2 separate regions of the Homo sapiens genome follow, and region 2 is linked to region 1. Evidence: fine-mapped expression QTL. A gene starts in region 1. The other region holds a variant in brackets. All regions are shown on one strand. Distances are from middle to middle.

Evidence for each region. PIP is the estimated chance that this variant, and not a neighbour inherited with it, causes the effect. A credible set is the group of variants that fine-mapping cannot tell apart.
Region 2: its variant is the best candidate, but not a certain one, in a credible set for the expression of SERINC3 in whole blood (INTERVAL, PIP 0.61).

What each region holds. Positions count from the first base shown.
Region 1 is chr20:44,520,438-44,523,354 of GRCh38, forward strand. It overlaps SERINC3 (serine incorporator 3), which reads right to left and starts at 1,633. Exons shown (of 10, transcript NM_006811.4): 1 at 1,476-1,633. The coding sequence starts at 1,514. RefSeq lists enhancers at 844-1,396, 1,315-1,624, 1,531-1,825.
Region 2 is chr20:44,466,959-44,469,875 of GRCh38, forward strand. No RefSeq gene overlaps it. Among named protein-coding and RNA genes, the nearest start is that of LINC01620, 3.1 kb to the left of the region's middle. The variant A/G (reference allele first, on the strand shown) is at 1,442.

The DNA of each region.
Region 1 (2,917 bases):
AATCATGTCCTTTGCAGCAACAAAGATGCAGCTGGAGGCCACTATCCCAAGTGAATTAATACAGAAACAGAAAACCAAATACAGCATATTCTCGCTTACAAGTGGGAGCTAAACACTGGGAACACAGACACGAAGATGGCAACAATAAACACTGGAGAGTCCAAGAGTGGGGAAGGACGGTGGGGGGATAGGGGTTGAAAAACTACCTGTTGGATACTGTGTTCACTGTTTGGGCAACGGAATCATTAGAAACCCAAACCTCACGATAAGGCAATATACCCATGTAACAAAACTGCATATGTACCCTCTGAATCTAAAATTAAAAATACATAAATACACAAAATAAAATACTTTTATAATAAACCAGTAAACATGTTTCCTTGAGTTTTGTGACCAAATTAATCAAAGCCAAGGAGGGAGGTCACGGGAACTTTGATTTATAGGTGGCCGGTCAGAAGCACAGGTAAAACAACCTGAGGCTTGCCATTGGCACAGAAAGTGGGCACAGTCTTGTGAGACTGAGCCCTCCACTTGTGTGATTTGATGCTATCTCCAAGTAGAGAGCTTCGGAATTGACTTGTAGGGCACCAAGTTGGCATCCCCTGCAGAGCTGACTGTTTGCCTGATGTTTGGGGGAAAATCCCCACACACCACACATCAGGTGTCAAAAGTGTGTTGTGAGTACAGCAGGAGAAACTGAGTGTGCTTTTTCTACACACTTGGTCAATTAAATCAGCTGGAGAATGAGGAATCAAGGAATCACGCTCCTCTGAAGTGGGTAAATGAGGGAACTCAGCATATTCTTTTATAGGCCCTATAATTTTCTCTTTAAAATGTTTACAGTTTACAAGGTGATTAAACCTTCACTTCACTGTCACAATCGTTCTCGAAGAGAGGAATGCTGGGGTGATTATCCTCGGATAAATGACTTACAGCAGTCCCAAAATATTCAGGCCCTGGTTTCCAATTTTGAATAACAATCCACAAGGGCTTCTTTCCCTTGCACCTGAACTGCAGACAAGCCTCCGCTAAAACCCCAGCTTTGCCACACACTCTGTAGTTTTGGCAAATCCCGTGCTAGGGGATAAAAATATTACTTGAGCCACCTAGAACTAAATGATGGCACCTTAAGAGGTGCTTCGGGAGGAACCGGAGCCCCTCGCTGGGAGCTGTCATTCCTTGGTCCCTCTCCAGCTCCAGAGGAACCTAGTCAGGAAGCCTCGCAGGGCGGAGCCATCCGAATTGTAAACAATGGCGGCCTAGCCTCTTCCGTTCCCCGAGGAACCCGGAGGGCGAGCCGCCTAAGCTGGACCTGAGGGTATCGCGGATTTGCGTCTGGGGCCCCGGAGACCCTCTGTAGCCCAGGGCCTGCTGACATCCCGAGAGCCTCTGGAGCCAAGGCCCGTGCAGCTCTGGTCTCGAGGCCTTTCCCCGCAAACCGCAGGTCCGGCGAGGACTCGGGACCCCGAACTCACCCAGCTGGCGAGGGAGAAGACACCCAGCACAGCCCCCATGGTGACGCCAGTGATGGAGGTGGCCGGTCCTGAGGCTGCTTTCTAACACGGTGGTAACTGCCAGCTGAGGTGACTCCCCAGAAACATGACGGTTTCTCAGGCCGGAAACGCAGCCTTCCACAGACGCACGGATGCGTCACGGCGTGGCCCCGCCCACCGTCCGCGACCGGAGCGGCAGAGGGGGGCGCCTGTCATTGGCTGAGGGGGAAGGTGGGGCTAAACCATCCTGGGGTTGCAGGAACTGTGAAGGTGTCATTCCTTACATCATTTGTATTCATTGTGCAAAGATCTGGAAGTTACAGAAGTGTACAGAGAGGCACAGTACGCTCAGAATTTATTCTCTAGTTAATAGGAGATCTGACAACATAAATGCACCGTGCCCCAATGTAATGAATACGATGAAGTAGTATGGGGGAATAGGCTTTCAATAAAGGTGTATTTAGTGCCTCCTATTGTAAGGGGAAAGTAATTTAGCTGGGCAGTAGTCTTGGAAGGCTTCTCTGAAGGATTTATTTTTTAATCTGCGAACTAAAGGATGAGTCCAAATTAACCTAGAAACGATGGAAATCGTATCCTAAAATGTGGGATGCACCCCATTTGGGAAAAATGAATGGCTCTAAGGGTGCATGAAGGACATTAAGCGATATTAAACAGCAGAGTGAGAACGTCCCATTTCAAACCAACAGGCTAGTTGTTTGAGGCCAGTATGGTATTTAACATTTTTCTAGTATTTATCTCCCTTTCTAACAGAGTAAAGCCTTCATTTTCCAGATCTCTCAAACAGGCAACCATGCCTGCAGTTTTAAAATATTGTTTTGTTTTGAGGTGTGTGTTAGCAATAACCTTTTCATTTCTTCCGAGCAATGCTGATTTCCCATTTAAGCAGTGATGTAAATATTCCTTTCAAAATACATGTCAAATTTGAGAGTTCACTTAAAGAAGAAAATGAAAACATTTTTTACTTACACATATAATAGTTTAGGTGGAATGTGGCAAACAATGATGATGTCCGGACAACAAGGTGTCACACTTCAATATCTTCTCCTGTGGTGTGTTAATCTTCCCTGATAGATAAAACTCTCTGGAAGGGGATTCATAATTGAATTCCTTCTGGATTGTCAGCCTTTAGTCTGATAAGGGAAATTCATGAAAAGCCCCTCTCTCCATGTGCTGTTCCCCAAGCAATCATCATACCAGTGTGGCATATTTGGGGATGTTATTTCCTGGATTCCTTGAAAATGTATTCCAAATTCATCTTTTACAGAAATGGAATGAGGCTCAAAGTTTGCCCAAGGCCATGAAAAGGGCTGATGAAAGAAGAAAGAGAACTACTCACATTTAATAATTCCTACCTCTCTTTTCCCAGATCCCTCTCCTCACCACACATACACAAATACCAGCTC
Region 2 (2,917 bases), 53 kb before region 1:
GCCTCAGTTTTTTCATATCCTTACTGCGGGTGGCAGCACCTTACTGGGTGGGGGTTTGTGGTGAGGGCTGAGTGAAGTAGTGAATTTGCGGAGCTAACACTCCAGAATTCCACAATCACAGACCTGCAAATTCCATCTCCGTGGGACCATTTACAAGTGATGTGGCTTCTCTGAGTCTGTTTACTCCTTTGTTAAATGGAAGAGCCTCTACTCCATTGCATCTCTGTAAGGTTAGTTAAGTGAATACATATGACATGCTTAGCACGGGACCTGGCACCTGGTAAGAACTCAGTCCATGCTGGGCGTTTTTAATACAACGGTGGGTGGCTGGTACTGACGGAGGGGATTTGGGATCTCCACCCCTTCCGTTTCCCTCACTATTCCAGGCCCTGTTTTGGAAATGCTTCAGCCAGGCTGGGATCCAGGGCCCCTGGGAACAGAGAGGACATACTGTACCTCCAAGCAGCCATGCTGACTCAGGTTAGGAAATCAATGTGTGACCACAAAAACACAGCCAGGTTCTTCCCACTTCTGGGAAATCTGCACAGCCAACCCATGGGCATCTCTTTACCCTGTCCCGAGAGGTGGCCAGCTTCGTTCTAGGACCTGATTCTGCAGCTTGTGAGCACAAGGCTGGCACATGGAGAAACAGGAGTCTCTCGCTCCTTAGGGAACCCCAGGCCCGGGGTCACAAGCTTTGCACGACCCTCTGATTGGGGTCAAACATGTCTGGTGTTTGCGAAGCCTCTGACTTCCCCCAGCCTGCGTCTGGACACTTCTCAAGCCAAGCCAGGCTCCGGACCACTGGTTGGGCAACGCATGACCTCAAACTGGGTCAGACCCATCAGATGAGCATCTGTTTAAGAGTATAGGACACTTTGTTCTTTAGAATCCCAAGGGTCAGAGTATGAACCCTCCCCGTCCCCAATTCAAACTCCTCCTCCATCACTTACTGCCATTTACTTACTCTGTTACTTTGAGCAAGTTTTTCAGCTCTCTGAGTTCTAGTTTTCCTAGCCACCAAATGCAGACTAACAAGTACCTTCACCTTCCAGGGTTGATGTGAGATTCGGGTAGTGAATGTCAAAGAATGGCACACATATTAGCAGGCACTCCATAAGGGGGAGTTATTATTGCAAACAGGGGCACTAGACACCAAGTAAAAAACAGTATGGTACATATGCTACAGTGGATGAGAGGGCAGAGCTGAAAGCCAGACTGCCTGGGTTCCAAACCAGGCTACTGGCCAGGTGCGGTGGCTCATGCCTGTAATCCTAGCACTTTGGGAGGCCAAGGCGGGTGGCTCACTTGAGGCCAGGAATTCGAGACCAACCTGGCCAATATGGCGAAACCCCATCTCTACTAAAAATGCAAATAAAATTAGCTGGGCGTGGTGGCATGTCCCTGTAATCCCAGCTACTCAGGAGACTGAGGCAAGAGA[A/G]TAGCCTGAACCCAGGAGGCAGAGGTTGCAGTGAGCCAAGATTGTGCCACTGCACTCCAGCCTGGGCCACAGAGTGAGACGCTGCCTCAAAACAAAATAATACAAAACAAAACAGGCTGCCCTGCCACCTCCTGTGTGGCCACAGGGAAAGTCTCTAAGCCTCAGTTTTCTTCTCTGTAAAATGGGAATAATCATAATACAGTTATAAGGATTCAATTAGATTAGTTGCACTGGAAACAGTGCCTGGCACATAGTATCACCTAATAACCATTAACGATTTTTTATTTTGTTTTATTTTTCCAGTCTCTGCCCCAGTTGGGAAGCATGAACTATTTTTAATTAGCCACACAAGTTAGTAATGTCGGTAATGGTGCTGAAATCACACGGGTCAGTGTTTTGAACAAAATTCACATGGAAGTCATATTTAGTGAGCATCTACCTACATACCTGGTGCTAACAGAAACCATACATTTAGATACATGTATATGTACATGTAAACACACATATGCACACACACATAGTGTGAAGTAAGTGTTGCTGTCCTCATTTTTTAAAACCTTTATATTATAGAGCAAAACAGTTGCAGAAAACCACACAAATTAAATTTGTAGCAGCCAGGTGCAGTGGCTTACACCTGTAATCCCACCACTTTGAGAAGCCGAGGTGAGTAGATCACTTGAGCTCAGGAGTTTGAGACCAACCTGGGGAACATGGCAAAACCTGAAATGCCATCTCTACGAAAAATACATAAATTAGCCAGGCATGGTTGGCACGTACCTGTAGCCCCAGTTACTCAGGAGGCTGAAGCAGGAGGATTACTTGAGTCTAGGGAGGTCTGAGGCCACAGTGAGCTGAGATCACACTACTGTACTCCACCCCAGGCAACAAAGTGAGACACTATCTCAAAAAAAAAAAATTGTAGCTTAGTGAGTTATATCAAGGCAAACACCCTGTAACCACCACCCCGGTCAAAATACAGAATTTTTTCAGCCACCTCAGGGTTCCCCTCCCCACCTCACCAGGTACTCCATACCAATCACAGCCCATCCCCCCAAAATAATCACTAATCCGACTATTAATTACTTCCTTGCATTTCTTCATGACTTAATCATCTGAGTGTGCATTCCTAGATGTTATTGTTTAGTTGAGTCCACTTTTTATTTTTATTTATTTATTTTTTGTTGAGATGGAGTCTCGCTCAACCGCCCAGGCAGTGGCATGATCTTTCTTGGCTCACTGCAACCACCGTCTACCGTGTTCAACAGATTCTCCTGTCTCAGCCTCCCCAGTAGCTGGGATTACAGGCACCCACCATCATACCTGGCTAATTTTTGTATTTTAGTAGAGACGGAGTTTCTCCATGTTGGTCAGGCTGGTCTCGAACTCCGGACCTCAGGTGATCCGCCCGCCTCAGCCTCCCAAAGTGCTGGCATTACAGGCGTGAGCCGCCACTCCCGGCTAAACATATTTGATAAG